Linked DNA regions of Homo sapiens: all the other regions are linked to region 1. The links come from fine-mapping of genetic effects on gene expression. A gene starts in region 1. Each other region holds a variant in brackets. All regions are shown on one strand. Distances are between the middles of the regions.

Region 1 (8,184 bases):
TCTCTGTCAGTAAACCTGAGCCTAATAATTTTTTTAAAAGTTCAATCTGCATTTGAACAAGAATTGTAACTGAGGAAAACCTAAATGCTTCACCTATGTTATCACATGGCCCCACCATATTTTGGCCAAACTTAAAAGCAATCTTTGTTGAAATAAACACAAGTGAAGAATACTGATAATTTACAGTCTACAATGCTTAAGAAATATTCACAATTTTCACAAACAACCAACAAATTATAGATTCATAATTATTTCAAGATAACCCAATGGGGCCTTTCATTAAATTTACATTGACATTGCCAAATTTGTAGCTCTTGTGTAAACTCAGACTAAACACTGAAAGGCAAAGGAAGACAGCATTAACCATAAAGAACATCTTTCCACTGGCATTCTTTTTTTTTTTTTTTTTTGAGACGGAGTCTCGCTCGGGGGCCCAGGCTGGAGTGCAGTGGCACAATCTCAGCTCACTACAACCTCCACCTCCAAGGTTCAAGTGATTCTCCTGCCTCAGCCTACCAAGTAGCTGGTATTACAGGCGCCCGCCACCACGCCAGGCTAATTTTTGTATTTTTAGTAGAGACGGGGTTTCATCATGTTGGCTAGGCTGGTCTCAAACTCCTGACCTCAAGTGATCCACCCGCCTCGGCCTCCCAGAGTGCTGGGATTACAGGCGTGAGCCACTGCACCTGGCCTCCACTGTCAGTCTTAAGCACTTTCTTCTATGTGCATTGTGCAGGTTATTCCCAACCGGGTCTCATAGCAACAAGATGGAGGGGATAGTATTATAAGAGGCTTTTCCAATTCAAAACTATCTTAATGTCAGACTCAGGCCGATTTAAAATCATACCAGTAGTTCATTAACATTATAAACTGGAATTTGAAATTAACTACAAAATTCCATAGCTCATCCCTGGCAACAAACTAAAGGACAAGACAACTCCTTTGGAAGTAGTTTTACTAAACGTACTATACTACAAACTTGAGAAAAAGTTTTAATTCCACAACTACAAAAGCACATTACTGCTTAACGGGCAATTAAGCAGAAACACAAACCACCACAACAGTGGTTTCCTGCAATGTTTGCATCCCTTGTCAGCTCTTTTCCTGGGGAGGAAGGTGGGGATGGGAAAGGAATATTGATACCTTACCTATCAAGCAGATAAGGCAGAGGATTTGTGCCTTACACAGAGAAGAAATATTTGACTGACATGTTCTCATAAATACATATGCATATTTTCATCTAATTTTACTGAAAGCAAGAAACAAAAGCTATAGAATACTACTAAGAATACAGTATTGCCACAAAACCACTGTGAGTGGTAAACACTAGAGAACTCATGACAGGCTTTAATCTGCAGATAGAGCATTCAGAATGTCTGTGATGTGAAATATCTGCAATATGCCAAGCAGCTTTTAATGACTGCCACAACCTGAAAACAGATGGCTTATCCTCTTTAAAGCACCAGCTAGTCAGCTCTTAAATATATGAGCTCTGATGATATTCAAGTCAGTATGTGTGTTTTATTAATTTTGTATTACATTAATTCTGGAGTCTGACATAGAGATGGATTACTCTGCGTTTTAAATAAAGGATTACATGCAGACCTTTAGGAATGAAAATGGTGACATTCTATAGCTAAGAAGGCAGGGGCAGGGTGGAATAACATGTATTCCAGTCTAGAAAGGTGATGATACATGCCATCTATAAGGTAGGATTCTAAACATCTAAAATTGATACAGAATCTTAATTGTCCTACTGACACAGGAACACTACGTCTGTTTTCTGGCTTCAGTAATTATACAATATTACTAAACTCCTAAAATTCTAAGTACTCTTCTTCCTGCAAGCTTTCCTGGAGCAAGTATTACTGGAAATAACAGTCTTCAAAGTATAAATCACACTTGCATGGTACATTAATGGTTAAAGCTCTTTCAGATATTTTATTTCATTAAAAGATCAATGAGGCTGGGCGTGCTGGCTCACGTCTGTAATCCCAGCACTTTGGGAGGCCAAGGCAGGTGGATCACGAGGTCAGGCATTCGAGACCAGCCTGGCCAACACAGTGAAACCCCGTCTCTACTAAAAATACAAAAAAAAAAAAAAAATTAGCCGGGCGTGGTGGCGGGTGGCTGTAATCCCAGCTACTCAGGAGACTGAGGCAGGAGAATCGCTTGAACCTGGGAGGCGGAGGTTGCAGTTAGTTGACATCCCGCCACTGCAATCCAGCCCGGGTGACAGTGTGAGACTCCGTCTCAAAAAAAAAAAATCAATGATGCAGTCTACGGCTCTGAAATTCTGGAAAAGTTATCTGTTTGGCCTACTGCTTCTTTGATAAATAACTGGAGCTGATAATTTTGATGAATATGCTAATTAATATCTCATGGTCACTGTCTCCAACATCCATGGTTCCAAATGTTTTATAAACATAACCTCACTGAACTCCCATAAATTTTGAGATATACTATTATTGTCTCCGTTTTATACACTGGAAACTGAAGCACAGAGAGGCTAAGTAACTTGCCCTAGGTCCCAAAGCTAGATAATAAACCAACCTGTTGTACCCAGGTAAGAACTAAGATGCATTAACTTTTGTGTAACTGAGTGTGAATGGTGAAGATTCGTCTTCTTATATGTCCTGTCAATAACATAGGTAGCAACATTTAAAAGGGAGATGTTTCTTTAAAAACAAAGGCTTTTCAAAATCCTTTAAGGATTATAAGCTCAAGATTTGGCCTAGTTTCCTAAAAACATCGAAAACCTCTTTCCCAAAAGGAGTGTTCTCCTGAGACAAGCACCAAGTGCTGTCAAGCTTTTTCCTCTGCCAGTTACAGACTCTCCCACAGGGAAGCACTTCCTGACTTGAAATAATGTTGTAACATTAAAATAACCTCCTGGCATGAGGTACTATGACATTAAATTTTATTAGAGTGAATTTTAAATGTTTTGTGAATCAAAACATTTAAAAGGAGTTAGTGTGGCGCTAGCACTTGATGGTACTGTCATAACTTTTAAATGCAAAACAAAACATAATTCATAGCTATATCTCCTACACATCACATGAGAAATTTAGAAACCAGCTGTGATAAACGTCCTCTGAGAGGTTCCTGAGGACAGGGACCCTTATCTTCTTGCATTTTTGCAGCCTTTATGCATTTCTGCAGTTATGCGTACTGCATGCAACTTGTCCTTAAGCATTTCCTAAAGACGTATCAATAGCGGTAAAGTATTATAATTTATAGCCAAAAGAATGAAGTTGGCAAAACAAGCTAAGAGCCCATTATGTCTGTCTTCTGAAATAGAGTCTGAACTGAATGTGTACAGAAATAAAATCGTGTCTAGTCATGCAATGGGTTAAGTATCTGCTCTTGGTAACAGCAAAGGATCTTTCACTTTCAAAAGAAAACAACGAAACAGGCACACACAAAATTTCTGCCTTTCTCATCCTAAACAGCTGAATCATTCACATATTCAACAGCCCAGAATTCTTCCGGGCTGTCAGTGCGGGCTCTGCTTTTTGAGAGGTTGGAATTTAAAATCCTCCTTAGGAGAGCACGGAAGAATTACAGGAAATTAAAGGGATTCCCAAAGGACGCCTGACTTAAACAGCAGCAGCGTTACCGTTAATCAAACAGGAGGCTCTGGCTATCAATCAATCTCCGGAGAAGGAAAAATACTATGCTGAGAAAATATATTCGTTCATTAGTCAAGTATTTACTAAAGGTGTACTCGGCGCAAGGCCCCTGGAGAGAGGCCAACAAGCACACCAGCTCTGGATCCCTCGCCGGACCGCCCCCTCCCCGGCGGGGCCCACCTGCAGGCGGGACGCCCCCAGGTGCGCGTTCCAGGCGCCGGGGGCGGCCCCCGCACCCACCCCTCCGGCTCCACCCCGGCGCGCCTCACCCGGACCGGTCTCAGGAGCGATACGGGCTTCAGCGTGGCGAAATGCACCAATACGACTCGCTACGCACTGAGAAGGGGGCCCCACGCGCGCCCCGAGCTACCGCGCCCGCGGGCCTCAGGGAGCCGCTGACCTTCTAGGTCGTGGGACCCCCGCACCAACCCGGGCCAGGGCGAGGGGGGCGATCTGGGGTCTCCAGAGGGCGCGTGAGGCTGACAGCCCCCCCCCCAGAGTGTTCTAGGGGCTTCGTGGGGCGCTTGGGGAGCTCTGGGGGTCCTAGGGGTTCTCTGAAAGGCGCGTGGGGGCTGAGGGTCCCTGTGAGACTCTGGGGATTCTAAGGGGGCGTGTTAGGGGATCCGGAGAGCGTGTGGGGGCTGAGGAACCCTGGGGAGTTCTGCCGGCCCTAGGGGGTCTCTAAAGTGCGCGTGGGGGCTGAGAGCCCCTGGGAGGATGCGGGGTTTCCAGGGACCCTGGGGGGGCCTGTGGGGTCTCTGGAGGGCGCGTGCGGACTGAGGGCCCCTGGGCGTCCTGGGGGCTCCAGGGGGCGCTGGGGGACCCTACAGGATTTCTGGAGGGCGCCTGCAGGCTGAGGGCCCCTAGACGTGGTCTGAGGGCCCCAGAGGTTGCGTGGGGGACTCGGGGGGTCAGCCTGAAAGGAAGGGGGCCAAGTACGGAGACCCCCCCCCCCCAGGGCACGCACGGTCTGGCGCTCACCCAAACAGCCCTCGGAGGAAGGAGTGGGAGGCCTTGACTCGCTTCTCGGCCTCCGCCATCAGCTGTACTGCCTCACGCTCCTTCCCCGCGTTGTCCATGTCGCCCGCCGCGGCCGCCACAGCCCCCTCAGCCGGCTCGCTGTGCGCCCAGGCGCCTTAACCCTCCCTCTGGCGGCCGCAGGGACGCAGGCGCAGGCGCGACGCGCGAGGCCTTTCGGGAGCTGTAGTCCGGGTCCTGTCATGGCGGCGGGGATTCGCGAGCCGCCTACTACAGTTCCCAGGAGGCCCCGGGGCGGGGTGTGTGTGAGCCGAGCTTGCGCACCGCTAGCTCCCAGGACGTCGGCGCAGGGGGCGTGACCCCCCCAAAGGGGTCCTGGGCCAAGGTGAACTTTAATTTTGTATGTATGCAGAAATGGAAAAATGATCCGTGGCCTCTAGTAAAGATCACCTCCTCAGTAAGACTCGCATGGCAATGGGATGGATGAAGGAACAGGGGATAACAGATTGGATGGAACCCACACCCTTCATGCAAGTTCTGCAAAAGAGAATCTGGTGTAGCCACCAAAGCATCACATGCTTGATACCGCCCACCAAAAAACGAGCAACAGCTGGCAATAAGAGCCATTTTTATCTCCAAGAGCAAGACGTCCCCAATATAAGTTCAGTTATTTTTAAATCTCCCCAAACTGTAACTTTCTGTTGGTCCTCTCTTCCTTGGTTATAAATGAGTTGCATATATGCAATATATGCATAATCCACTCTTTTGTTGACTGAATTATATTCAATGGATGTGAACCATTGAACTCTTATCCTTTACATAATACTGGCCATAGTGGATGGATCTCCAGGGACAAAATGTTTGCCTGCCAGGAAGACTTCTAATCTCCTAGGAGAAGTATCCATAGATAGATGGGATCCTGTGCCAGAGACTTTCAGGCCTGTCCCAGAGGGAGTTATTTTTGAAGACAATGTCTAGACCATTCAAGCTTGGCAGTGCTAAGGCAGAGATGCTGAAACTAATAAGAAAATCACTGCCAAGTGAGATTTATGACAGTTTCAAACTGTTAATAAATACACTCTGGGCACTGGCATGCAAAATTTTAGAAAATGAAGACTGTCTGTAGAGGGCAAGGCAAGAGGGGCCAAACTCCTAGAAAGAAAGTTGACTAAAGCACATGTCACAGAGTTCATACATTTCAGGACTCCGTAGAGATAGAAAGAAATCTCAGCTCTTCGTGCAGTTTATTTACGATTACTACATGCATTATTCTAACTTTGAAAAGCTGAGCTGTGTGTTTTTGGAGAGAGAAGGAGGCGGGAAATTGGAGGTGACCGTAAATGCAGGGGAGACCAGAGAAAAACTGTAAAAAGTGAACATAAGCATTTGGAAAGCAGAGCAGTCTATGGGGGCTTAATGGAGTGAGGCTAAGTCAAAAGCTCCTAAGTAAATCAGTGTGTTGATTAAATCAGTTGTTCCCTAACGTGGTTCGATGCAGAAGCTCTAATGGATATTTAAGAAATACTGATTCCTAGGCCACTGGGTTTTGGTATCAAGGTCTCTTGCAGCTGGGGTCTAGAAAATGCACATTTTGAAAAGAACTCTCCATCCCTATCCTAAAGCACACAGTTCTAGATTCTCATATCTGTAGTCAGTTGAAAAGGAGCTGGAACAGACTGCCTCCCCGAAGCTAGCACTTGCAATTAAGAGAGACATTTTTGGTGGTTTCTAGTAATTTCCTTCATTCTCTTCTTTGTCACAGGAAATTTGTGGGCACTCCCACCGTTCTGCCAGTCCACACCAAAGTGGGAGAAAACCTTCAAACCTTAATTACTGGGTAGAGCTAGTGTTTTATTCTCCCAAAGGCTGGGGGAGGAAAGGAGGCAGGGCAGAGAGATGAACCTCACAGAATAAGGCCTGACTAGAGAGACAGCTGAGGAATCCTTGAAACAAGAAGGAAAAGGAAAGGAGAAGCACCCCTGGTGTGGATCAGGAGAAGAATAGAAGTCATCTTGGAGAAGAGCCAAAGGACCCACTGCCCACACCTGCGCTGCCCAGGATGGAGCCACTCACCACTGGTGGCTATTTACATTCAAGTTAAATAATATTAAATAAAATGTAAAGTTCCATTTCTTGGCTGTACTAGCCGTATTTCAAGTGCTCAATAGCCACACATAGCCAGTGGCTACTGAAAGAGTTATAAATATAGCATCCTGGTGGATTGACTAAGTTAGACACCTGGTGGATTGACTAAGTTAGATACTTGAGGGCGGTGGCTCACGCCTGTAATCCCAGCACTTTGGGAGGCCAAGGCAAGCGGATCACTTGAGGTGAGTAGTTCAAGACCAACCTGGCCAACACAGTAAAACCCCATCTCTACCAAAAATACAAAATTTACAAAAAATACAAAAATTAGTTAGGTGTCGTGGTGCATGCCTGTAATCCCAGCTACTCAGGAGGCTGAGGCAGGAGAATCACTTGAACCTGAGAGGTGGAACAGAGGTTGCAGTGAGCCGAGATTGCACCATTACACTCCAGCCTGGGCGACAGAGTGAGTGAGACTCTGCTCAAAAAAAAAAAAAAAAGTTAGACACCCAAAAAACGACAGGTGCAAGAAGATTATTTTGACTTTTTCTTTTCTTTTTTGCATACAGAATACACACTGGACACTTTGACCTCTTGTTTCTTTCTTTCTTTTTTTTTTTTTTTTGAGACAGAGTTTCACTCTGTTGCCCAGGCCAGAGTGCAGTGGCTCACTGCAAGTTCCGCCTCCCAGGTTCACGCCATTCTCCTGCCTCAGCCTCCCAAGTAGCTGGGACTACAGGCACCCACCACCACACCCGGCTAATTTTTTGGATTTTTAGTAGAGACGGGGTTTCACTGTGTTAGCCAGCATGGTCTCGATCTCCTGACCTCGTGATCCACCAGCCTCGGCCTCCCAAAGTGCTGGGATTACAGGCGTGAGCCACCGCGCCTGGCCCCAACCTCTTGTTTATTTAAAGGCAAGAGATGAAATTCCCATATGAAAGATGTCCCTCTTATACTAGAACTAAAGCAACATTCTTATCATCAAAGACAGGAAGTTGAGGCTAAGAGAATTCTGTACAAACCCTATTAAACTAACCCTTATCTTCTTAGTCACTTTTCTATCCAATTAACTACCCTAGCCCAAGCCCCTCTGCCTCATCACATTTTCAGTTTACTATTCTTTGTCCAATTCAGTAAATAAGTAACACACTCTAACTGCCTCTTTGGGTTTTCATTTCCTTATGAGGCCTCCCATGCCATGTAAAACTTGTATCAAATACACCTGTGTGCTTTCCTGCTATTAACTTGTCTTATGTAAGTTTAATTTTCAGACTCCACCAGGAGCCTGAGATGCCCCCCTACACTACTATATGGACTGCACAGACAGAGAACAATTTTATCATTCCACAAGTCCTAGTGGATGGCACTAGCCTCTATGTGCTTTGCTTTTCAGAAGTTCTGGACACTTGTAAGAAAAGAAGAAAAAGGCTTCAGGGAGTTTCTGAGAAGGCAGAGCAGGAAAGGAGCGTAGCCTGAACAAGGCAGA
Region 2 (8,184 bases), 50 kb before region 1:
TTGAAATACATCCTAAGTTATCATCTGAATGTTGTACTTTCAGAATTCATACAGGGGAAAAACCTTTTGTCTGTGATGAATGTGGTGCAAGATTCACTCAGAACCACATGCTGATTTATCATAAAAGGTGTCACACAGGTAAATACTCATGCTGTTGTGATTGAATGTCTTTCCTAGATCTAGAAGGAAATGCAATTGATTAATTTTGAAGTTGGCATCTACCAAGGTGGTGCAGGTTAAAGCCATGATATAGCTTTTCCATCTAGTAAGTGAGCAAAATGAATAAACATACACCCATTGCCTTGTTGCTAGTGTGCACATGGCTGTGGCTTTTATACCACCAGGCCATAGGATCTGGCATGCAGGTCTTAGGTATCAAGAGATATAAAATAGTTCTTTTGTAACCGAAATTTTTTTTTCTAAGACTCTGTCCTAAAGAAATTGTCCAACATATGGGAAGAGCTGTATGCTATTATCCCCCTTCTTGCTATTTTTAACTAAGAATGGGAAACAGCCTGATTGTCCAACTACAAGGAAGTGCTCTAGTCAACTCTGGTAAATCTATACCCTGGCTTATGACCCGGCTATTCAGAGTAAGGGCTCTGAATGACATGAAAAAGTCTGTGCTTGGATGTTCAACTTTAAAATGCACAATTAAGCATACAGTTAACCTCAATTGTATTGAAAACCTGCACATAAAAGACCAGAAGAAAATAAGTTGTTATATGATACATTAAGGTAGTAGGATTATCTCATTTCTGTTTTCCAAAGTCTTTATGATTTATTAATTATGTGACAGATAAAACTTAAGTTGGCTTTATTCTGCTTCAGCACAGTAACCCTGAGGTTTAGAATCTTGTGGAAGATACAGAAGCATACAGCACTGAAGTGTTCCAATTCTTCTCAGTTTCTTCTTTGCTTGCATTTTTTATTCTTACCTGTAAACACTGGCTTACAAGCCTCAAGTTCAAATGCATGTGAGACAGAGATGACATGTCTCTGACTCATTAGACACCACATCTGTGTGATTAGACACCAGTTCTGCTCATTCTGAAGTCATAATTCATGTCATTGAATGAAAATCTCATTTAATGTCATGAAATTAGCATTTAATGACATGCATTATGACTACAGAATGAGTAGAATTGTTTAAAGAAAGCTTGGGATTGGGGACAAGGTCAGGTTATAATGAAGGATTAAGTTAGAATTGGTCCTTTGATAATATTAACATGGTAAGATTTTATTAAAGTCACTATTTTTATTTTGATGTCTGTGAAATCGGGCACAGCTAATAATTTGGTAAGTCTGATTTGTGGGATTAAACTACAAAAAGTGAGATATTTAAAACTCTTGTCCTACAATTCAATCAAGTTGATTGGAGTTGCTACTCTAGAATAGTGATATATATCCATTGTCAACTTCCCCTTTATTCTGATAAAGATCCATAGAAGTGTTCCTTTGAAAATAATCCAGCAGTTCCTCCAAACAGAAGTTGTGAAATTATTTTCTTGTTTGGAATGAGTAAATTTCTAAAATGTGAGCCAGCTGAACAAACAATACCTCTTTGATTCTAGTCAAATGGAATTTTTCTTGCAATTTCCAAGGATATTTTACACCAACTTTCAGTAAGTAGCAAGCATCTTACATGAATATATATTTTATGATAGTTTTTACTGGAAAATGTAACATGCTGCCTACCAAGGCACTTTTGAGTTCACGTGGGTTTTAACAGTGGAGACCTACTGTTCCATGTGTTTTTAATGCCTGTATTGTTTATGACTTTATTTCATTTTCTCATGTAGGTGAAAGACCTTTTATGTGTGAAACATGTGGCAAGAGTTTTGCTTCTAAGGAGTACTTAAAACACCACAATAGAATCCATACTGGATCCAAACCCTTTAAATGTGAAGTATGTTTCAGGACTTTTGCCCAGCGGAATTCACTGTACCAGCATATTAAAGTCCACACAGGTATGGTTGGAATGTCCCAGGGAAGGGAGTTTAGTTTGGCCAAAAAAAAAATTCTAAAGCTTGTAGATTTACCAGTAAATTACTTGGAACTAAGCTTTTGAAGAAAACTGGCCAAACTTTGTATGTCATAATAGCATTTCTTTAGAGATTGTTTCTAACTCTGAGAAACTGAAAAGTGGGAGCACTTATGTGTGTAAACGGGAGAAGACTAAGTCCCTTTGCTACATGGAGTTTTTACTGAAAAGGACAGACAGCTTAGTCATGGTGTGAATGTAGGAAGTGGATGTGGATGTGTGGACATAGGGATAATGATCTGTACATGTTAGTAAATGCACATGCACACATGCATATTCAGTTGTTAGGGGTCTTGTAATTTTATACTCCATTACCATGGAAAACAGGTGTCATTCCTATAGTTATAATACCTGCTGCAGGCACATGTCCTGGCCCCTTTTTGGTGTAGGCCATAAATTCTTGGTATTATAGAGATAGTGGATTTGTAGCCCTTAAGTTGTTCCCAACATAACCTTCCTTATGTTGGATGCTGAGGCTTCCCAGTGGTTTGCAACAGCATCATTCACTCAAGTGTGTATTCAGAATTAAGCACAGTAGGCCAAAGGGACCCACCAGCAGTCTCCTCTCTCCCTGCCTCAGGGGAGCGTCCCTACTGCTGTGACCAGTGCGGCAAGCAGTTCACCCAGCTCAACGCCCTCCAGCGCCACCGCCGCATCCACACAGGGGAGAGGCCATTCATGTGCAATGCGTGCGGACGGACATTCACCGACAAGTCCACTCTTCGGCGGCACACCTCAGTAAGCAGTGGGTTGGCTTATTTGAGAAACAAGCTGCTGCCCTTAGATGCACGGAAAGAGAAATACCTACCACCATTCTCCAAGGTGGTTAGAGGTCGAGACAACAGGTACTTTCTCCTTGGGTTGTCTCTGCAGTGGAACGCTCACGGAATGAATGAAGTGGAACACCAAGCCCCAAGGCCCAGGGAAAGCACCATCCACGATGACTACTCTGTAACAGTGAGGGTGGTGGCAGGCGGGTACTTATTAGTGAAAGTTGAAAATTGAAGTTGTAGAGGGACTATTGTTTTAAAAGATGCACTTGTCCAGAGACACATTCAGTGACCTTTGTTTTGTGTTTAACTTATAGATACACGATAAGAATACTCCATGGAAGTCTTTCCTTGTCATTGTAGATGGCTCGCCCAAGAACGATGACGGACACAAGACTGAACAGCCTGACGAAGAGTATGTGTCATCCAAGCTTTCGGATAAATTGCTGTCTTTTGCAGAAAATGGCCATTTCCACAACCTGGCTGCAGTCCAAGACACTGTACCTACCATGCAGGAGAACAGTTCTGCTGACACAGCCTGCAAGGCAGATGACTCCGTGGTGTCCCAGGACACCCTCCTGGCCACCACCATCAGTGAGCTTAGCGAGCTGACCCCACAGACAGACTCGATGCCCACACAGCTTCACTCTTTGAGCAACATGGAATAAGAGCTTCAAGCAGTTCCCATCCTGTTAGTCTGCGTGTGTGGTAGCTGAACTCAAGATGATGTGGGGCTAAGAAAAATAATTGTCCATGTGCAAAGATGTGGGCAAGAATGGCCTCTGCAGATTTTCCTGAACTTCTGCTAACTTGCACGGCTTTATCACAGCATTTTTAAAGCTTTCCCTCAAAAATCCTGATCTGCATGATCTCAGCTACTTTATTGACAAAAAGGCAGTGAACATAACCTCACTTAATTCTGGTGTAGGGTGTATGTGCTAATCGTTCTAATTCTTGATTACCTAGTTTATAGATAACTGCTGGTCTTAATTGCAGAGTACAGAGAACTGAACCAGCTCCTGATATTGTAGTTAGCAGTCTTCCTGGCTTCTCACTCTGCCTTATATTTCCATGTGGGTTTACTTCTCTCATAACTACTTTCAAGGTATTTTTCTTCCAAGCTGAAATAAAACTGGGGCCACATATTTTCAGTCATTTCTTCCCTGTTGAATTGAAGCAAATCAGATTTTCTGTGGGGACCCTCAAATGCAACTGAAGAAATAGATTGTTGCATTCATTCCTCCCCACCCCCCATTTGTAGGCAGTAAACAAAGTATGACTGACAGATTGAACACCTGCAAAACTGCTAGCGTAATCTCAGCACATACGCAGCTAGGAAGTTTGTCATAAAATCAACTTAGAAATGAGATGAGGCTGTTCAGTTTGTCTTAAAAAAATCAGATTAGGTAAAAGCTGTCCTACCAAAGAGTCTAGCAAAACAATATAGTATTTTTTTGCAGAGGCATGAAAAATTAAGA[C/T]GCTTTAGAGTACTTGAAAGTTGTGTAGTCATTTTATTTGCAAAATGAGGTGACTGTGGCAAATTATAGAACACAGAGTATTATTACTTTTGCCAGGTTTTTCTGACTTGATTTCTGTAATTTCCAGAAACCCAGACTTCTCATTTCCACACCTAGAGATGGAAACAGGCAAGTAACTGACATGTCTATTTCCTTGGGAGCATGTGAGAACATAGCAGTAGGGACCAAAAGTCTCAGCACACTTACCTCCGATTATGCCTTAAAGAGTTGATTGTGAAGAACCAGTAACTTTGTCCCAAATGCTTCTTTGGCTGTTTCATGCAGGACTTAATTATTGCTTTTAAAAATTCACAATGAAAAGACGATTCTGCTGTATTTGTTAAACGTTGACATTTGGTTCTAGGGCCTTGAGTATGTGCCACGTGCTTGTGAAATGCTATGATTCACATGTAACATTTAAACATTAATTTAAAAAGGGAACCTTGGAGAATTCTTTTGTTCACTAGTTCCTTTTTTCTCTACATTTTTAATTTATTAAACTTGCTGTGAAAACACTTTGATTTTCTAAGAGGAAGGTACTTTAAGTTCCAGAATGAACATGTAGCTGCACTATGCCAGAAATTAATGAGGGAAGACTTTCTTCCTAAGTGCTTATGTTTTAACTTATGTTAGTGAAACCACTACAAGGTGTTTCAGGCGCTGATAACATGCTTCACACCTGCCCTTGGAGGTCACAGTACTAATTTACTTCAAATTTAGTTATGACAGTGTCACTGTATCCTAGTTATGTTTACAGCACAAATAAATAATGACTGTCATACATCCAGAGGAGACCGAACCTGCCCAGCTGATGTACTGTTTTATGGAATAAAGTCACTTGATCAGAAGGAATTGAAACAATAGATCATTTTGTTACCTACTGGAGGGATTTTTGTCTTGAATTTGTTTCCTTAGAAATTCTACAAAAAAATGTTGTTAATAAATGTCTGCTTTGTAAAAGCAGTTTTGCAATTTTTTAAAGATCTATTTCTGTTATAATTTAGGTTCTGCAGAAATATGATTCTTAATTGAAACATATAATTTGCTTAATTACGTGAATAATGAAATGTAAAATCCGGGTCCATAAGCCTTTATTTCATACAGTCCTAGGATTAAGCTGTTTAACTGCTTGGATCCCAGTTGGTCTCTGGCAGTGGGATCCTGGAGAGGAGAAATCCTGGCCTCTGCTCATGCGCAGGCCACAACCGGGCTGGAAGTGCGGTTGAGCTCTCTGCCACTTTCTTCAATGTAAAAAGTAGGCATCAAAGATACGACTTCTACTATATACATTTCTCTGTCCCTGAGAACAGAGAAACGTAACCCTGTAGGGGACTGGTTACAGAGGACCTCCTGGAGCATCTGCCCCATTCCTCCAAGTCCAAGCACAGCCATGCTGAGTGGAAGCGAGGCCACCATCTGAGTGGATTGGTCCCAAGTGTGTAATGAGGAAAGTGGCCAGGTGCCGGCACAGTGCCTCTCCCAGAGCCTCAAGAAGGGCCATTTAGGAGCTTGCTTCAACCATTTTCCAACCATTTTCTGTGAAATGCTGTCAGCCCAAACTCCAAAGGGATGTGCAGCCTTTCGTTTTACCAAATTCTTTGCTGTCGTTTGGAAAAAATGGGCCATGTGGTGGAGACCTTTATTTAAGGTGATTTTTACAGAAATGTGATTTTGCTGTAGGTGATTATCCAAACAAGTAAATTTGAGTGTATAATTTAATTTTTAACCTGTTAAATAAACCTTGTCCCTCCAAGGAGTTCATTTTTGGGAAACAAGATGGGTACTTGTCAATTTAACCAAATGTCATGATATTCATGTACTCAGGAGTAACAATATTTCATTTGATGTGACTGAGAAAGGCACACAGGTCAGAGGATCATCTAGCACAGCAGTCCCCAACCTTTTTGGCACCAGGGACCACTTTTGTGGAAGACAATTTTCCCACAGGTGGGGGGACAGAATGGTTTCAGGATGATTCAAGCGCATTGCATTTATTGTGCACTTTCTATTATTATTGCATTGTAATATACAATGAAGTAATTATACAATGCACCATAATGTATAGTGGGAGCCCTGAGCTTGTTTTCCTGCAACTTGACAGTCCCATCTGGGGGTGATGGAAGACAGCAACAGATCATTAGGCATTAGATTCTCATAAAAAGCGTACAACCTAGATCCCGTGCACGCGCAGTTCAATAGGGTTTGCACTCCTATGAGACTCTAATGACACTGCTGATCTGACAGGGTGCACAGCTCAGGTGGTAATGTGAGCCACGGGGAGTGACTGCAAATACAGATGAAGCTTCACTGCCTGCAGCTCACCTCCTGCCGTAAGGCCCAGTTTCTAACGGGTTGGGGACCCCTGATCTATCACATCATGCTAAATGAGACTCAGAAAATCATCTGCATACCTTTGGCAATCCGTACGTGGACTCTTAACTAAGGCTGACAAAACTAAGCTTTTAAACTACCATGGTGGCATCTTCATTAGGAAATTGATTCTGAGAAGAGCCACTTGATTTAGGCTTTGAATGATCAACAACTCAGAATGCCTAGATGAGGACAGCTTGTTCTACCATTTAAAACATTTTGCTTTGACTTACCTGAAGTGTTGTGAATATACTTTAGGACCTGAAATCAAGGCTCTATGATAGGATGGTAGGATGAGCCGGTCTGCACTACCCGCCATGGGTCCTCTTCCTCATCAGAACTTCAGGCCCCAGTGGTCAGTGGGACTGACCCTTCCCCAGGGGCATCTCCTCTCCCTGTGCAGATATTTTGCAAAATTAAAATAAATGCCCACACTGACCAGATAGTTGAGTGGTACTTTCTTGGGGTAGGAGAGTGTCAGGCTTAGGGGTGCCTCACCTCCCCACCAGTCTTCCAGCAACCATGCCTTCCTCAACTTTGCAAGTAACTGTAGACCCTAAAGGATTCAAGGAAGGGATGAGAATGTGGGGTCTGCAGGGTTATCATGTACTTTAGTGGACTGCATCAACAGAAGTTACCAGGGTTTCCTTCTAAACCCTCAGTCTGCAAAACCATTACGGTGCCCTGGAATTCCCAACAAATGACCGGAGCCTAGAGAGTATTAACGTCTGTTGCCTTAATCTTAACGGGAACAACTTGAAACAATGGAAGCTACTTTTGACCTATGCCAATTTAGCAACAAGACTCATCAAAATATTACTGATAATTTCCACTTTATAGGTTAAAATAAAACAAGCATACTTTTTCTGCTAAGGTAGATTTATTGTTACACATGGTTAGTTTTCATAACGTAATCCCCTGCCCCAGAGCAACTCAGGACTCCATGGAGCAGGAAGCCTGCTCTTGGTCATAGCTCATACCACAGCAGGCAGGTCACGGGGGCATGCTGTGCTGCCAAGTCCTCCAAAGGAAGTCACAAAGGTTTGCATTTGGACATTTAAATCCACAAAATCAGGAGAAACAATAAATGCACAAGGGCTGGTGCATATACTTTGGTTACAGTGACGCCACCACACACGGTCACGACTGTGCAAAAATACTGCTTTCAAATCATTAAATAAAAAAGAACTCACACAAGCTATAAAAATGTTGCCACAAAAAGCAAAACTTTCCTCTAAGAAATATTAACTGACTTTGACTATGAACTAACTCCAGATTTGCTAAAGTACAAGAATTGTACCATAAATAATTATATTTTGTTCATAAGTAACATTCTATAAATCTTGAAGACCTAGCTCACAGGCATCTTGAAACATGGCACTGTCCTACATCCATGGGACATTTAAAGGAAGTAAGTTTGCACACCACTAACTGGGCTTTTCTCTCATTCTTTTTTTTAATCTTCTGGCAGGTCTCTTCTAGC
Region 3 (8,184 bases), 57 kb after region 1:
AAGGCTTCAGTGAGCTGAGATTGCACCACTGCACTCCAGCCTGGGTGACAGAGTGAAACTCCATCTCAAAAAAAAGAAAAGACAAAAGGGGAGGTTAACTAAAAGCCACTGAGGAGAAGAAATTGAATAAAACAAGAAACAGGGACAAATGAAATGAATAGAAAACAAATAGCAATATGGTAGATTTGAAACCAAACATATGGTAATATTAGTCATTAGTAACTAATAATATGAGTAATGTAAATGGAACAACTTTCCAAATAAGACTCTTAGACTGATTTAAAAAACTATTTGGTGGTTATAAAGGCACATATTAATTAAGATACCATATTAGAATAAAAGTATGAATAAAGATATTCAAGTAAATAAGAATCAAAACAATGCTAAATGTTTTGGTGTCTCTGACATCAGACTTCAGAGCAAGAGGCATTACTCAGCATAAACTGGTACATTATATAATGATAAAATGGTCAGCCACCAAGAAAGTGTAACAATTCTACTTGTATAAGCCCTGGACGACATAGTCTGAAAATAAATCAAGCAAAAATTGTCAGAAAGAAATAGACAAATTCACAATCATAATCATCATGAGAAATTTTAACATACCCCTCAGTAACTGGCAGAAAAGGCGACCAAAACCTAAACCAAAACCAAACCAAACCAAACTCAATAAAACAAGACAAAGTAGAAAGAGTAAATATGGCCAGGCACAGTGGCTTATGCCTGTAATCCCAGCACTTTGGGAGGCTGAGGCGGGTGGATTACCTGAGGCCAGGAGTTTGAGACCAGCCTGGCCAACATGGTGAAACCCTGTCTCTACTATAAATCCAAAAGCGTGGTGGTACATGTCTGTAATTCCAGCTGCCTGGGAGGCTGAAGCATGAGAATTGCTTAAACCCAGGAGGCAGAGGTTGCAGTGAGCTGAGATCGTGCTACTGTACTCTAGCCTAGGTGACAGAGTGAGACTCTGCCTCAGGAAAAAAAAAAAAAAAAGAAATAAAGAAAAAAGGGTAAATATATAGAAAATTTCAACAGAATGGACTTACTGATGTATATAAATATCTAACTCTACATCTATAAAATGCAGAATACGTATTCTTTTCAACTGCATATATTAATAGAATATTGGTTATTCTAGACAAATAACTCAAAAATTTCAAAGAAGGGAGATAATGAAATGGTGTTCTCTGACTGACTATAGTGGACTTGAATTAGAAGTCGATGAGAGAAAAGATAACTAGAAAATCAACTACATTTGGAAATTAAACAATACAGCTATAATAGCCCACAGATTAAAAAAAATGTCATAGTGGAAATTACAACTGGTTTTGAAATGAAGGAAAACTAATAATCAGCCTGGGAGGATGAAGCCAGTTGCACCTTCTGGTGGAGGAAGGTCTGGCAGCAGGGAAAATGGACTCTTATAGACATCTCCCTTGCACCCTTCAGAGCCCCACTGGCCACACACTTTGTGCTCTCCTGGGCCCAGCTGGCAATGTGGGCTCCAGCCCCGTCATGGGCAGGCTTAGCAACTGCTTCTGCTCTTCAGGAACTGGCTCACCAGAGGTCTCAGAGATTTCTTTTTCCCTGGTGAGCCTTACATGCACTATGTGAGGGCAAGCCAGGTGGGCTCGAGGTCTCCACCGGGTCTTCTCAGGGCTGGGCTGCAGCTGGAGGAGGCTTCCCTGAAAAGGTAGGCAGCAGGCATGTTGCATGCATGCCTGCAGGTCCAAAGTTATGTGACCTCCTGCTCTGCCTTGTTTGGAGATAACGGAGGGACTCTGCGGGGTTGTGGAGAGAGGCACTGGACAAGGCACTGCTCAAAGGGAGGTGCTCAACAGCTCAGGGCCCCTGGTGGACAGGGCTGTGTGGGACCCAGAGCTGAGAAGGGAGTCACCAGCAGCAGCTGCCACCACTCCTCCACCTGAGTGTCCCTGGCCCCCAGTGGGTACGCTGAGGATAGCCATGTGGTAGAAGGTGCCCCTGCTCATGGCACTTATTGTGCTGAGCACCCGCATCTGGATCATTCAAAAAGAATTCGTAGACATCAGTATTTTGTGGCATCAATGGAGTTTGCTGTGGCTCAGTTCAATGAGGACAATATGGAAGAGTACACGCACAGGTTGCTGGAGGTCCAGCGAGCCCAGCAGAAGGTGAGTGGCAGTCATTTTGTCCACTCCCAGAACTCTCTTCACCGACTGAATAGCTCAAAGCCCGTGGTGATGGCAGCAGGGGGTGACGTGGGAGGGGGTCCCATGTCTGCACCACATTTCTGAAGATTGGGCTCAGGGGCCCTTCCTCCTGCGGTGGGCACACAGCCTTCCTGATCTTTGCCCATTTCCTTGGCCATCTGCCCCTTCCTTGGGTTGCATCCCCATCCCTGGACCCTGGGAGGCTGCAGGAGCCCTGGGCACAGGGGGGTTATGCTGCTGCCCAGCCACAGTGCCCGGGGTGGGGGCTTCATGCCAGCCTAAAAGGGGAGAATGTAAGGAGGGGCAGGGCATATGTGAGTGTTCTTGGTGTGTATGGGAGTATGAGTATGTGAGTGTGTTATTGATATATGTAAAAACATGAGTGTGCTGTTGGTGTGAATCAAGGAATGACTGTGAGTGTGTTGGTGTGTTGGGGCATCAGTGTGTGAGTGTGTTGAGGGTTGGGCATGAGTGTATGTTGGTGTGTGTCAGGCATGAGTATGAATGTGTTGGTTTGTGTCAGGCATGAGTGTGAGTGTGTTGGTGTGTGTCAGGGCATGAGTATGTGAGTGTGTTGGGCATGAGTGTATGTTGTTGGTGTATGTTGGGCATGAGTGCATGTTTTTGGCATGTGTTGGGCATGTGTGTGTGAGTGTGTGTTGGGCATGAGTGTGAGTGCGTTATGTGTATAGGGTCACGAGTGTGAGTGTGTTGGTGTGTGTTGGGCTTGAGTGTGAGTGTGGTGTGTGTGTTGGGTATGAGTGTGAGTGTGTTGGTGTGTGTTGCGCGTGAGTGTATGTTGGTGTATGTTGGGCATGAGTGCATGTTTCTGGCATGTGTTGGGCATGCATGTGTGAGTGTGTGTTAGGTATGAGTGTGAGTGTGTTGTGTGTATAGGGGCATGAGTGTGAGTGTGTTGTGTGTGTTGGTCATGAATGTGAGTGTGTTGTGTGTATAGGGGCATGAGTGTGGTTGTTAGTTTGTTCCAGGGCATAGTTGGGTATCATCTCAACCCCAGCATGGATTGCTGAGCCCTTGACTGGGTCAAGTTTCTCGACAATTTCTAGGCTGTCCAGTGAGACCTGTGCCCCAGCCTGTCCAGACTTCTGGTCTGGATTCATTTTCTCTCTACATTTGGGTGCTTCCTGAGTTTCATGGACTTCTACGTAAAGAAATGAAAATAACTTTTAATCACTTCTTATAGAAGCCTAAGAAACATGCACAACAGCATGGTGCAGCTCTGCATTCACCTCGATGATCACTGGCAAGGTAGATGGTTACGAGCAATTAGCACTCACATGAAGCAGAACAGTGCCATCCCCCAGAGCCCCCTCTGTGATCCCATCTAGATTCTAACCTGCAAGGAGTCCTGCTGACCTAGTTTTTAATCCCAGGCATTAGTCTCGCCCATTTCTCACTCTGTGTAAAAGGAACCACCCAGTGTGAGCCCTCTGTGTGTGGCTGAGGCTCAGGTGTAAGGCAGAGGCAGTGTATTGTTAGGTGTGGCTGCGGCATGTGCAGGCTCACTGCTGCGCAGGATTTGATTGTGTGAGTGTGTCACACCCTATGTTTATCACTCTGTCAATTTGTCTGTCAGGTATTAGTCATTGGGAAGATTCCAGTGTGTATCTGAAGCACACTTAGTGGACTGTCTTCTACTGACCTGCAGAGAGATTGTACATGGCCCTGTCTAGGCCTATTTATATGACATGCACATGGCAGCCTTTTATCCACTTTCCTATTTGTTTCTCTGCCTTTTAAAAAAATTCATGAAAAGAAAACACTTAGCAACTGTTTGTATAATTCTTCTTGACAGACGTGGACAATGATTTATTATTATTATTATTATACTTTAAGTTTTAGGGTACATGTGCACAATGTGCAGGTTAGTTACATATGTATACATGTGCCATGCTGGTGCACTGCACCCACTAACTCGTCATCTAGCATTAGGTATATCTCCCAATGCTATCCCTCCCCTCTCCCCCCACCCCACAACAGGCCCCAGAGTGTGATGTTCCCCTTCCTGTGTCCATGTGTTCTCATTGTTCAATTCCCACCTGTGAGTGAGAATATGCGGTGTTTGGTTTTTTGTTTTTGCGATAGTTTATTGAGAATGATGATTTCCAATTTCATCCATGTCCCTACAAAGGACATGAACTCATCATTTTTATGGCTGCATAGTATTCCATGGTGTATATGTGCCACATTTTCTTAATCCAGTCTATCATTGTTGGACATTCGGGTTGGTTCCAAGTCTTTGCTATTGTGAATAATGCCGCAATAAACATACGTGTGCATGTGTCTTTATAGCAGCATGATTTATAGACCTTTGGGTATATAACCGGTAATGGGATGGCTGGGTCAAATGGTATTTCTAGTTCTAGATCCCTGAGGAATCACCACACTGACTTCCACAATGGTTGAACTAGTTTACAGTCCCACCAACAGTGTAAAAGTGTTCCTATTTCTCCACATCCTCTCCAGCACCTGTTGTTTCCTGACTTTTTAATGATTGCCATTCTAACTGGTGTGAGATGATATCTCATTGTGGTTTTGATTTGCATTTCTCTGATGGCCAGTGATGGTGAGCATTTTTTCATGTGTTTTTTGGCTGCATAAATGTCTTCTTTTGAGAAGTGTCTGTTCATGTCCTTC[G/A]CCCACTTTTTGATGGGGTTGTTTGTTTTTTCCTTGTAAATTTGTTTGAGTTCAGACAATGATATTTTTAACAGATTTGGAGATGGGCCTCACAATTTGTAAAAAATATGATGAAGACATTGACAATTGCCCATTGCAAGAAGGCTCAGCAGAGAAAAAGGTTTGAGAATAAAATCAACCCCAAAGCATCATGAATCTCTCGGGAATGGATAGTAATATCAAGGTGGGCCTTTGGGAGGAGGCTTAGAAAGGTCATCAGAGGTGATCCTGGGGCAGAATGAGGGTCCCTGAGCCCTCTCCCACCTGGTGTCAGGGCTCCCTCAGTGAAGGCAGAAGGCTGGCATGTAAGCAGACAAAGCCTGGCCTCAGTGCCAGGGAGATCCCTCTGCCTACAGCATGGCTGACTGGACATAGCAGGCACCTGCAGATTCTACATGGCCTTTGTCCCCAGACCAAGCCCTCACTTTGCTCCCCAGGCCAGTACCTTCCTGAGACCCTCGAGATCCAGGTAGATGATGTTCTCCATGCAGTCCTCACTCTTATTTTGTTGTTGGGGATTGCAGGACTGTCTAGTTTCTCCGGTCACTCAACCTGTCCCTCTAGTTCCTGTGTGGTAAGGATGTGTCCTAGTCAGTCTGAGTTCTGACACCATCCTCCCATGACCCATACATGACCCATGTGAGCTCAGAGGTTGAGGATGCTCTGAATCAGAGTTACAGGAGCAGCAGGGCTGGTCTCGCCCTTCCACCTGCAGGCTTGCTGTCAACTGCTGTGCTCAGTTGGTGGGTGCCCAGAGGGACCATCCCTTGGGAAGTTCATTCTCTCCCCTAGAACACACAGGGTGGGAGCCGTTCATCCAGCATCATGTGTGCTAGGGAGATTGTGAGTGGACACGATGCTTCAGGGGTCAGGTGATGGCCCAATCAGGCATGCTTTCAGGAATCCCCAGGCTCAGGTGGGAGCATTCAGCCACCTGTGCCCCTTGTCCTGGTGGAGGCTTGGGCATTTCAAGCCCTGTTCCTGGATGACTGTTTTTGTTTTTCATTTTTTGTAGTTTTTAATACATCTTGACCCCCTACTACATGCTAAATGCTCTCAGTGCATTACATTTTTCTAATTTATATGTTATACTTATTTTTTTTCAGGTATACTGCACATTTGTCATGGATGCCCGACCTTGGTTTTCCCAGTTCAACCTCCTAAACATCACCTGTAATGTGGAAACAGGTGGTGGCAGAGCCCCTGATTTTTTGCAGCAGAAGTCCTCTCTTCCTCTAGAGTATGAAAGTTTGTAGTTCTAGGCCTATGCTGCACTAGCAGAATTAAAGACATCTTAGCTCCTTCTGGGTCTGTGAACAGTTTTGCACTCTTTCCTATTATTTATTTGCCATGGATGTTTCTGGCAGTGATAAGCAAGGGAGAATTCATTATCATCGTTACCTTGGCTGCAGGTGTAGACTGTTGAATAAACCAAACTCCCCAGTTGATTTGAGGCAGTTCATGTAGGAGCCCCCCACCAGTTGGTTGGTGTACTCATCCATCCACCCATCGATCCATCCATCCATCCATCCATCCATCCATCCATCCATCCATCCATCCATCCATCCATCTGTTCCTTCATTCATGCACTGATTCATTCATTCATCCTTCCATTTCTCTATGCCATCATCCATCCACTCTAAAGGAATGCAGACAATTTTGTTAACCACACATGACCCTTCTGTTTCCATCTCAGGAACAGGCTCACAGAGGGTGGCTCTTCTGCAGAAGGGCCAGGCGCAGGCCTAGGGATCAGAGAAGGTCACTGAAGCTGACAGGAGGCTCTGCCCTCTGTGGACACCGAGGGCTGCATGAATCACAATGATGTCTTCTCCAGAGCTCAGATGTCTTCTCCAGAGCTCAGAAGATGGCAGTTCCAGTCTGCATGCCCACACCTGCTCCTGATGCCTGTGTTACCTATCTGGGACCCAGCCAGGGCTTCATAGCTGCCAGCATCACTCACTGCCCCTGGGAGAAGCACTGTGGTGACAGACACCCATCCTGACAAGCAGTCCTCTCTGCTGGGGTCTTGGTGGGGGATCAGCCTTGGAGGGGCAGAGAGATGAGGGGATGGTGTGGTGGGGGGACATGCATTGGGCAAAGAGACAGTGCAACAGTTTCTGGAGGAGTCTTCCCGAACAGAAGGGCTAGGGAGTCTTTACTCCTCCATCCTTGGTTTGGGGGGTGATTTGAATATTTCTTGGTAAGAAGTCTGCCTTTTTCCTGGATAGCTCATTCCCATGAATTTGCCATAGGGCTTATGGGACAGAATTTTCAGAAACAGCTTTGGGTAGCTCCATCTGTCATGGCAAAAAGATGTGGCAGCTTTGGTCCTTCGGCCAACTTCTGTGCAGGATTTGTGTGCAACATCCCTCCATAATTTGATAGGGCATATTTATATTACCAAGGGGATGTCTGCATGGTTAGCAAAACCAATCAATTGCTGGCCCTTGGCTTTGAGAGCACTCAGGCTGGGAGGGGTGGAGCCCTTGTTTATGGACCCCATGCCTACTGTTCCGGACAAGCACAGCCACACCCTCCCTGAGCTCTGGTCAGCATTGCTTGCTGATGGAAGCACCTTTACCTTTAATTCCAAGTTCACAAGGAAGGCCTGGCATCCTGCTCTTTTTCACAATAAGCCAGTTGTTTTCTACCTTGATCCACACAAAATCCCACTGGTTTCATTTTATATTTCTCTTAGGGACCAAGCATTACCCCTATCTGTATTGCAACAGAAAATTTGGGCCTAAATCATAAATACTTGGAGTCCTCAGGTGTTCGGTGCTTGGGGCTATGGCTGTGAAGTGGTTCTTTAAGGTACTCCAATATTTTAGAAATTGTGTTTACTGCAGTTGGGTATTTTGTCCATGGCCTGTGTTCTTTAGTTCCGGCTCTCATAGAAATTGAAAACATAGCCCTATTGCGGATTTCACTGTTGATGGTGCCCAGTGGCCATGAGCTATGCAAGCAGCTTTGGTAGGGTTAGTAAATTTTGTGCCTGCCACTTTTGTTAGTAATATGATGACCTCAAACCAGTAGAGCTTTGAATAATGTGTCAATATCCAAGATCAGCCAGAATCCAGGAGTCCATCTTGTTTCCTGGAGAAACCTCTCTGGATTTGGGTCAGTCATTAAGTGGCCTGAATAAGTAGGAAGTAAACATATTGAAAGTTATAGTACACAAAATTGACATATATTTCTAAATTCTAGATCTATGTCAAACCCCGAATATTTTCTACATCTTATCGAGTGACCTGTTTTGAAGGAGCAGGGCTCTTTGGAATGCATTTGCTGA

Direction of the effects. Positions count from the first base shown, and alleles are read on the strand shown. Sizes are in standard deviations (SD) of each study's normalised expression. Not every link is listed here.
As copies of T replace C in region 2, the expression in monocytes of the gene that starts at base 4,797 in region 1 goes up (moderate effect, 0.52 SD a copy in BLUEPRINT).

The links. PIP is the estimated chance that this variant, and not a neighbour inherited with it, causes the effect.
Region 2: its variant is fine-mapped to the expression of NAPB in monocytes (BLUEPRINT, PIP 0.95).
Region 3: its variant is fine-mapped to the expression of NAPB in whole blood (TOPMed, PIP 0.97).

The regions. Positions count from the first base shown.
Region 1 is chr20:23,416,692-23,424,875 of GRCh38, forward strand. It overlaps NAPB (NSF attachment protein beta), which reads right to left and starts at 4,797. Exons shown (of 11, transcript NM_022080.3): 1 at 4,614-4,797. The coding sequence starts at 4,711. RefSeq lists silencers at 3,786-4,015, 4,646-4,735 and an enhancer at 4,986-5,175.
Region 2 is chr20:23,366,960-23,375,143 of GRCh38, forward strand. GZF1 (GDNF inducible zinc finger protein 1) reads left to right here. Exons shown (of 6, transcript NM_022482.5): 3 at 44-138; 4 at 1,803-1,970; 5 at 2,625-2,782; 6 at 3,132-6,103. The coding sequence ends at 3,482. It overlaps NAPB (NSF attachment protein beta), which reads right to left. Exons shown (of 11, transcript NM_022080.3): 11 at 7,563-8,184. Among named protein-coding and RNA genes, the nearest start is that of GZF1, 8.9 kb to the left of the region's middle. The variant C/T (reference allele first, on the strand shown) is at 4,293.
Region 3 is chr20:23,473,735-23,481,918 of GRCh38, forward strand. It overlaps the pseudogene CST12P. Among named protein-coding and RNA genes, the nearest start is that of CST8, 13 kb to the right of the region's middle. RefSeq lists a silencer at 1,938-2,232 and an enhancer at 1,944-2,771. The variant G/A (reference allele first, on the strand shown) is at 4,851.